Homo sapiens: one gene and its partner. The protein of the gene in region 1 purifies or fractionates together with the protein of each later gene. This does not show direct contact. Each region holds a gene or a part of one and is shown in the gene's direction. Other genes may lie near its edges.

The links. Proteins that work in one complex are often made in the same cells at the same time.
Region 2: the proteins of CRYBG3 (region 1) and KCNAB2 purify together in Homo sapiens (co-immunoprecipitation; one large-scale study listed by IntAct). This does not show direct contact.

The regions. Positions count from the first base shown.
Region 1 is NC_000003.12:97,874,011-97,877,510, forward strand, and holds part of CRYBG3 (very large A-kinase anchor protein), read left to right. Parts: coding exon 1-3,500.
Region 2 is NC_000001.11:6,094,388-6,097,887, forward strand, and holds part of KCNAB2 (voltage-gated potassium channel subunit beta-2), read left to right. Parts: intron 1-12; coding exon 13-98; intron 99-935; coding exon 936-1,056; intron 1,057-1,142; coding exon 1,143-1,237; intron 1,238-2,248; coding exon 2,249-2,369; intron 2,370-2,881; coding exon 2,882-2,970; coding exon of another isoform or gene 2,971-3,144; exon of another isoform or gene 3,145-3,168; intron 3,169-3,500.

The DNA.
Region 1 (3,500 bases):
TATATCTTGGATTTTACCACCTATTCATGATGAAAAAATCAGTAGGCAAATGGCGCAGAATTGTGAAGCTCACACTTGTGTGTTTCATCAATCTTTGGATATTTGTGGGACTAAAAAGATTTCTGGTCACTCAGAAATGGCGGAACTCAGCTTAACTAATATTTCCCCTAAATTCCAAGAAACTGGCAGCATGAAAGTAAATTCACCTTTTCTGGATTCTGATTCCAGTTTGGAAAAAAATTCTTCTGCATCTGAGGACTCAAGCTTCCTTAAAGTACCTTCTGTGCTGAAATTGGAAAAGAAATCCTCATCTTACAGAAAGAAAGAGAACATCCATTTTTTAAATGGTGGTATTGATAGTGTGTCATCTTCCTCTAGTTACCCTGAAGAAGTTAGCATGATAGTAAATTCACATAAGCCCCAAAATAATTTGGATTCTATACAAGTTACCAAAGATCTCACACATGAAGGTACCTCTGTAACTAACCTGTTGTACCCTACTACCTCTTATTTGGAATTTGAAACGTCTGTCTCAATTGGGACAGAAGTAACCCCATTTCAGGAACATTTTGGGATTTATACTGGGAAGATATCCATTGATTTCCCAACTGCTGCCCAATTTGACAATCTCGTGGAAGCAGAGACTGGAGCAGTTGCTGGGCCTGCAGCGTCAGTTAACAGCTCAGGCCAACAGTGTTCTGAAGCCTCTGCTGAGCACATAGAAGCCAGGAGAAGAGCACATGACCAACTTTTGGACCTCAAAAGTAGTTTACTCAAAAAGGCCGATACATTGATTGGTGAGATTTTTAATTCTGTCAGGGAAGAACTAAAATTCAAACACACAGTGAGTACCTGCCAGGAGCATATAGCCATAGAAGGTATAATGAATCTGGGTACCCTGAAAGAAGACATCTCTGAGAAAAACCCATCAGAAGTGACACTAACAGAAATACAACAGACAGAGGGTTTGGAAGAGCAAGGCATGGAAAACATGTCAGAAGTCAAAGAGAAGCCCTGTGTTTCACCAACAGTTGGTGAGAAGAATCTTCTTGTTGATCCTAATAGTATGAATGTATCTTGTTTGTTAGAAGATAAAGCTAGGGAATTAGTCAATGAGATTATTTATGTAGCCCAAGAAAAATTGAGAAATGATACTTTTGAAGATACTGAGGATACTTGGGATTCTGAACTTCAGGCTAATACTTCAAAAATTCTGAACAGTGATAGTGTTAAGCCACATGATGTAGTTAGAGAGTTCTTGGTTTCAGAACAGCCAGTAAATCAAAGCACACAAATTAGTGAAAATAAAGTATTAAATGAATTCTTCTCCCTAAGTAACTTAGCTAGTGGCACAGAGTCAATTAAGGGAGGAGAAATTGTTCTCTACCAAAAATCCCTATTTTCTGGAAATGGATCTGGACTGTCTGATAGTATAAATTTGCAGGAATCAGATACGGTTTTACTAGCTGAAGACATGTCACATAAACGGTTAGATGATAGGGTAAAAACACATTTATTTCGCAGTGAGGACTGTAATGAGACAATGGAAATAGAGAATGTGGATAATAACAAAACTGAGACAGAGGACAGAAGAACTCTTGTATTAAATTTCAAATGGCCTCCACTTGTGAATGATGACATCCATGCACCTGGTACATCTAAAAGCAGTTTGTCTGATAGCCTTGTATGTATATCTGAAAAAAACTTGCCAGGACACAGTAAAAACACACCTCTTGCAATGTCAGATGTAGGGAAAGTACACAAGAAGGATAATGAAATAAATATAGGGAAAATTGAACTTATACCTTCCATGTTAGAAACAGGGAAAACAAACAAAAAGGATGCTGAATTGAATATTCTGAAATATGAGGCAGTCCCTCCTATGATAGAAATGGGAAGAATACATAAAATGGATGCTGAATTGAATGTCACGAAAACTGAGCCAAAAGCTAATGTTTTTAAAATGGGAGAAGTATACCAAATGGATGCCGAGAGCTGTATTGAAAAAACTGAGGGATCAGCTGTCATTTTAGGAATGGAAAAAGCTTATAAGATGAAGGATACTGAAGGGGATATTGGCAAAATTGAGGTGATACCTATGATGCCAGAAGTGAAAAATATCCACCAAAAGGATGCTGAAGGGGATATTGTAAAGACTGAGATGACACCTGTTACAGTAGACATGGAAAATATTTACCAAACGCATGCTGAAGGGGATATTGGCAAGACTGGGACGATAGCCTTGTCAGAAGTGGAAAATATCCACCAAAAAGGTGGTGAAGGGATTAGTGAAAAGGCTGAAGTGATACCCGTTACATTAGCAATGGAAAATACTTACCAAAAGGATGCTGAAGGGGATATTGGAAAGGCTGAAGTGATGCCTGTGAGGTTAGAAATGGAAAATACTTACCCAAAGGATACTGAAAGAGACGGTGGCAAAACTGAGGTGATGCCCCTTGCATTAGAGGTAGTAAATACTTACCAAAAAAATGCCAAAGGTTTTACCGGGAACACTGAAGGGTCTGTGTTGAAAATGGAAGCTACTTACCGAAAGACTGCTGAAGAGGTCATTAAGAATACTGAAATAGTACCGTGTGTGTTAAAAGTGAAGGAAGCACACGAGACAGCACCTGCCCCCTTAGAAATGGAAAAAGCATGCAAGAGAGATGTTAAAGAGACTATTGGAGCAACTGTGTCCACACCCTCTGTGATAGAAATGGAAAAAATATCCCCAGAAGATCGTGGTGAGAATATTGGGAAACACAAAGTGTTACCCGCAGTGGTAGACATTGAGAAAATACATGGAACAGGACTAGAATTGACCACTAAACAAGGGGAGGCCATGCTTCCTGCATTTGAAAGTAAAACACCACAAGAGTATGCTGAAGGGAGTGTTGAAGAAACAAAGGAAGAGCCTACAGAAATAAAGGAAGGCTTGATAGCACATGAAAATAGACTTCCTACATATTTCAGGGGATATGAATCCCCTACATTAAGTAAGGATTATGAGGGCTACCCAGCCCCAGCAATGCCAGATTTTCAACCTGGGGATACCACAGTAAGACTAGACAAAAGAATGTCTCTTACTGCAATATATGACAAGAGGAGAGAGACAGATTATAGTGACAAAGGATATAATTTAGCTTTTGTTTCTCAAGATGAACAAGAAAATTCTTCCTTTACTATATTATACGAAGAGCCCCTTCAAGAGGAGGACAAGTATGCTTCCGCAGAAGCAAGACAAACACAGTCTGTCTTGTTTCATGATACGTCCGCTGACAGCATGCCTGTTCTGGCATGTGAAAGGTCTGAGAGTAGAACTGACCTTGTCCATCACTTTGAAAAAGGTACTAAATTAGGTGAGACATTTGATAGTGATAGTTCAGAAATGTTCTTATCAGTGGAGGCCAAAAGGTACAAAATTTATCCTTTAGCATTGTCTCCCATTTATGAGGATGACAGCTCACAGGAGGACATTCTATCTAGTGAGGTTTCACCTG
Region 2 (3,500 bases), on another chromosome or scaffold:
CTCTCACGACAGAGACCGTCCGCGCCATGACCCACGTCATCAACCAGGGGATGGCCATGTACTGGGGCACGTCACGCTGGAGCTCCATGGAGATCATGGTACGGTGGCCGCGCAGCATGTGTGTGTCCAGGCACAGACTCCCGGCACCGGCTGCGTATGGAGACCCCAAAGCTCTGGCGGGGTCTGTGCCTTTGGTCCCAACTGCACCGATGCCTGGGTGCTAAGGGAGGGACAGGATGGTGGAGTGTGGTGGTTATGTCTGTAGGCCTTGCAGACGGGGATTCTGCATGGATCCCAGCGCTGTGTGGCCCTGGACAAATGGCTTAACGTCTCTGAGCTTGTTTCCCCACCTGTAGAACACATCTGCTAGGTGAGCCCCCATGGGGCCATTCTAAGGAGTCCCTGAGAGAGCCAGTGTGAAGCTCTTAGCAGATGCCCTGGAGCTCAGCAAGCACTCTGGGGTGACAACACCGTCAGCTGTTTCCACTGGGCTCCTGAGACGTGCCCGGTGCTGTTAGGGTCAAGGGTTCCACAGGGACCCTCTCACATGCAATCCTCACCGGTGCCTTTACCAGGTGAGTGCCGCAGGCAGCCCATTTTTCAGATGTGGACACTGTGGCACAGAGAGGTTCAGTAACATGCCAAGGTCACACAGCTTGGGCCAAGATTAACATCCAGGCTGTGTGGTTCAGAGCCTGGGCTGCTCATAACTGGACCCTCCGGCCTGGGGGTCCCACCACCCACCTCCTTTTCCCAGCTCACCAGGGCCTGCCTGGCTCCCAGGGAAGCTATGAGTGTGAGCAGTGGGGAGCCCGGGCTGCAGCTGCTGGGCCAGCCTGCTCCGGGGACACCTTGGTGCCCTCTCCATGGCTGCCCCGGCAGCCTCCCGCCTGCTCACAGGCAAGGGCCCTCGGGGTCCCTTTCTGCCTTCACAGGAGGCCTACTCCGTGGCCCGGCAGTTCAACCTGACCCCGCCCATCTGCGAGCAGGCTGAGTACCACATGTTCCAGCGTGAGAAAGTGGAGGTGCAGCTGCCGGAGCTGTTCCACAAGATAGGTGGGCACCCTCGGGCCCCTCGCCCCGCCCCACCCCACCCCTGCTCTCGGGCCCAGGGCTTGACTCCACCTGCTTTTCCTCTTCAGGAGTGGGCGCCATGACCTGGTCCCCTCTGGCCTGTGGCATTGTTTCTGGCAAGTACGACAGTGGCATCCCACCCTACTCAAGAGCCTCCTTGAAGGTGAAGGAACAGCCTGGTGGGGAGGGACGGGCAGGGGATAGGCATTTTGGACGGGTGGGACCTTTGGGCCGACTGCTTTGGTGCTGGGCAGGGGTTCCGGGAGCTGCAGCTGTTCCCACCTCGGTCTGCTGGGGGCGGGCTCCTTGGCGTGAGAACATGGAGCCCCTCCTGGCCTGATCCCATGTGTAGAGGGGCTGCCCAGCCTGTGGCACAGGCCCAAGTGGAGAGGCCCTTTCACATCCCCCCCCCTGCCCCCACCACATCCCCCCATCTCTACCCCCTACCACATCCCCCACCTCTGCCCCCCACCACAGCCCAGCATTCAGAACTCTGAGACCCCTGGGCCTGGGCTCCGAGATGGGGGCTGCAAAGCCACATGGAGGTGACCCTGGGAGAGGCGCCCCTCCCCACCACACAACCTCTGAGTGGGGACTCAGGAGGGTCCCCAGACTGCAGGATCTGGAGAACAAGGAGCAGGCCAAGAAAGTCTGCCCAGCCAGCAGTCTCAGCACTGGGGCCCACAGCCCTGGGTTCCAGGGCAACGTGGCCTGGCCCCCGACTCCTCCCATCCCATGGCAAGGTCAGGGCCCCCCTCCAGGAGGCCCTGCAATCCTCTGGGGGGGATGGCCAGGGGAGAGAGCACTCCCCTAGGGCCAGGAGGTTCTTCTGGGCCACGGGTGGCAGCCGAGACCCCAGGCTGCCAAGTTTCCTAAGAGAAGGAAGGCCAGCACCTCGCCTCCTTGTCCTGACTTGGGGTTGGGCCAGCACCACAGTCTTTGCACTTCAGAGCCTGGACAGGCCCCGCTCATCCACCAGCCCGTGCCCGGCCCACTGCCCACTCTCCCCTACTTGAGAGGCCTGGGGCAGGGGCACTGCCCTGGCTTCAAGATGAGAAGAGCCCCTATGAGGGAGAAGGGTCCAGAAGGAATGAGCCCATCGGCCCCCTGCACGTGGGGGTCCAGGTGACCTGCTCTCATCTGTAGCTGTGCTGCTCCCCTCCCCCGCAACCAGGGCTACCAGTGGCTGAAGGACAAGATCCTCAGTGAGGAGGGCCGGCGCCAGCAAGCCAAGCTGAAGGAGCTGCAGGCCATCGCCGAGCGCCTGGGCTGCACCCTGCCCCAGCTGGCCATAGGTAACGGTGGGGTCGCCATGGGGCCAGTGCCCCTGGGGAGAACCTGCCCCAGCTGGCCGTAGGTAACAGGGTGGGGTTGCCATGGGGCCAGTGTCTCCGGGGAGAGAGGGAAGGGATCCCTGGACATCATCCCCCAGCCAGCCTCGGGTAATCGGGCTCTAAGGGGCATGGTTGGGACCCCATGCCTCTAGGGGGATGTCAGGAGTCCCTGAGGACCTGGGCCACCCCCTCCATCTGCCAGCCATAGGTAATGGGGCTCCCGCTTTCATGGGAAGAGGATGGGGAGCGCTAAGCACTTGGGCCACCTCTCCATCAGGGAGCAGCGGGCTCCCCCATGCCTCCTCCAGCCACCTCTTAGACAAAGCCCGTGCCCAGCACTGCAGGGCTTCCTAGACCCCCTCAGACCCCCAGACCAAGATGCTGGGTCTCTCGGCCCAGTCAGAGGCAAGGCAGACCCATCAGGGGCCCCTGTGGTGGGTGTTTCTCCCTCACCTTGGGTCTCGCCGCCACAGCCTGGTGCCTGAGGAATGAGGGAGTCAGCTCCGTGCTCCTGGGGGCCTCCAATGCGGACCAGCTCATGGAGAACATTGGGGCAATACAGGTAAGAGTGAGAGGCCCTGCTGGGCAGAGGGCCCATCCCAGCCCGAGCCCCGTCCAGTGCATCCTCCCAGGCTCGTCCTGCGTGCCAGGCTCTGTTCTAGGCACTCAGGATGCGCCCGTGAACCATCAGAGTTGTGCTCCTGGAGAGCTTGCTTTCCAGCAGGAACAGACATGAACACTAACTGCACGAAACAAGGAGGTTAGAATGTGTGTCAGGGTGGACGAGCGCTGTAGGAGAGAAGCCAGAGATAAAGGGAGGGAGCTGGGGCCAGGGACGGTGGCGCTGCAGACTCAGGTTCAAGGGGGCCTGTCAGGTGGGCTTGTTGAGAAGGTGGTGCTTGAGCAGTCTTGAGAGATGCGGAGTAAGTCACGCAAATGCCTGCGGGAAGAACCTTCCACCAGCAGGAAGAGTTGATGCAAAGGCCCAAAAAGGCCTGGAGCAGAGGGGCAGATCCTGAGAGGCACGAAACACCTCCAGGGACTTCTGAGTGAGACGGGAGCCGTGGCAAAATTGTGGGCAGAGGAGGGCGA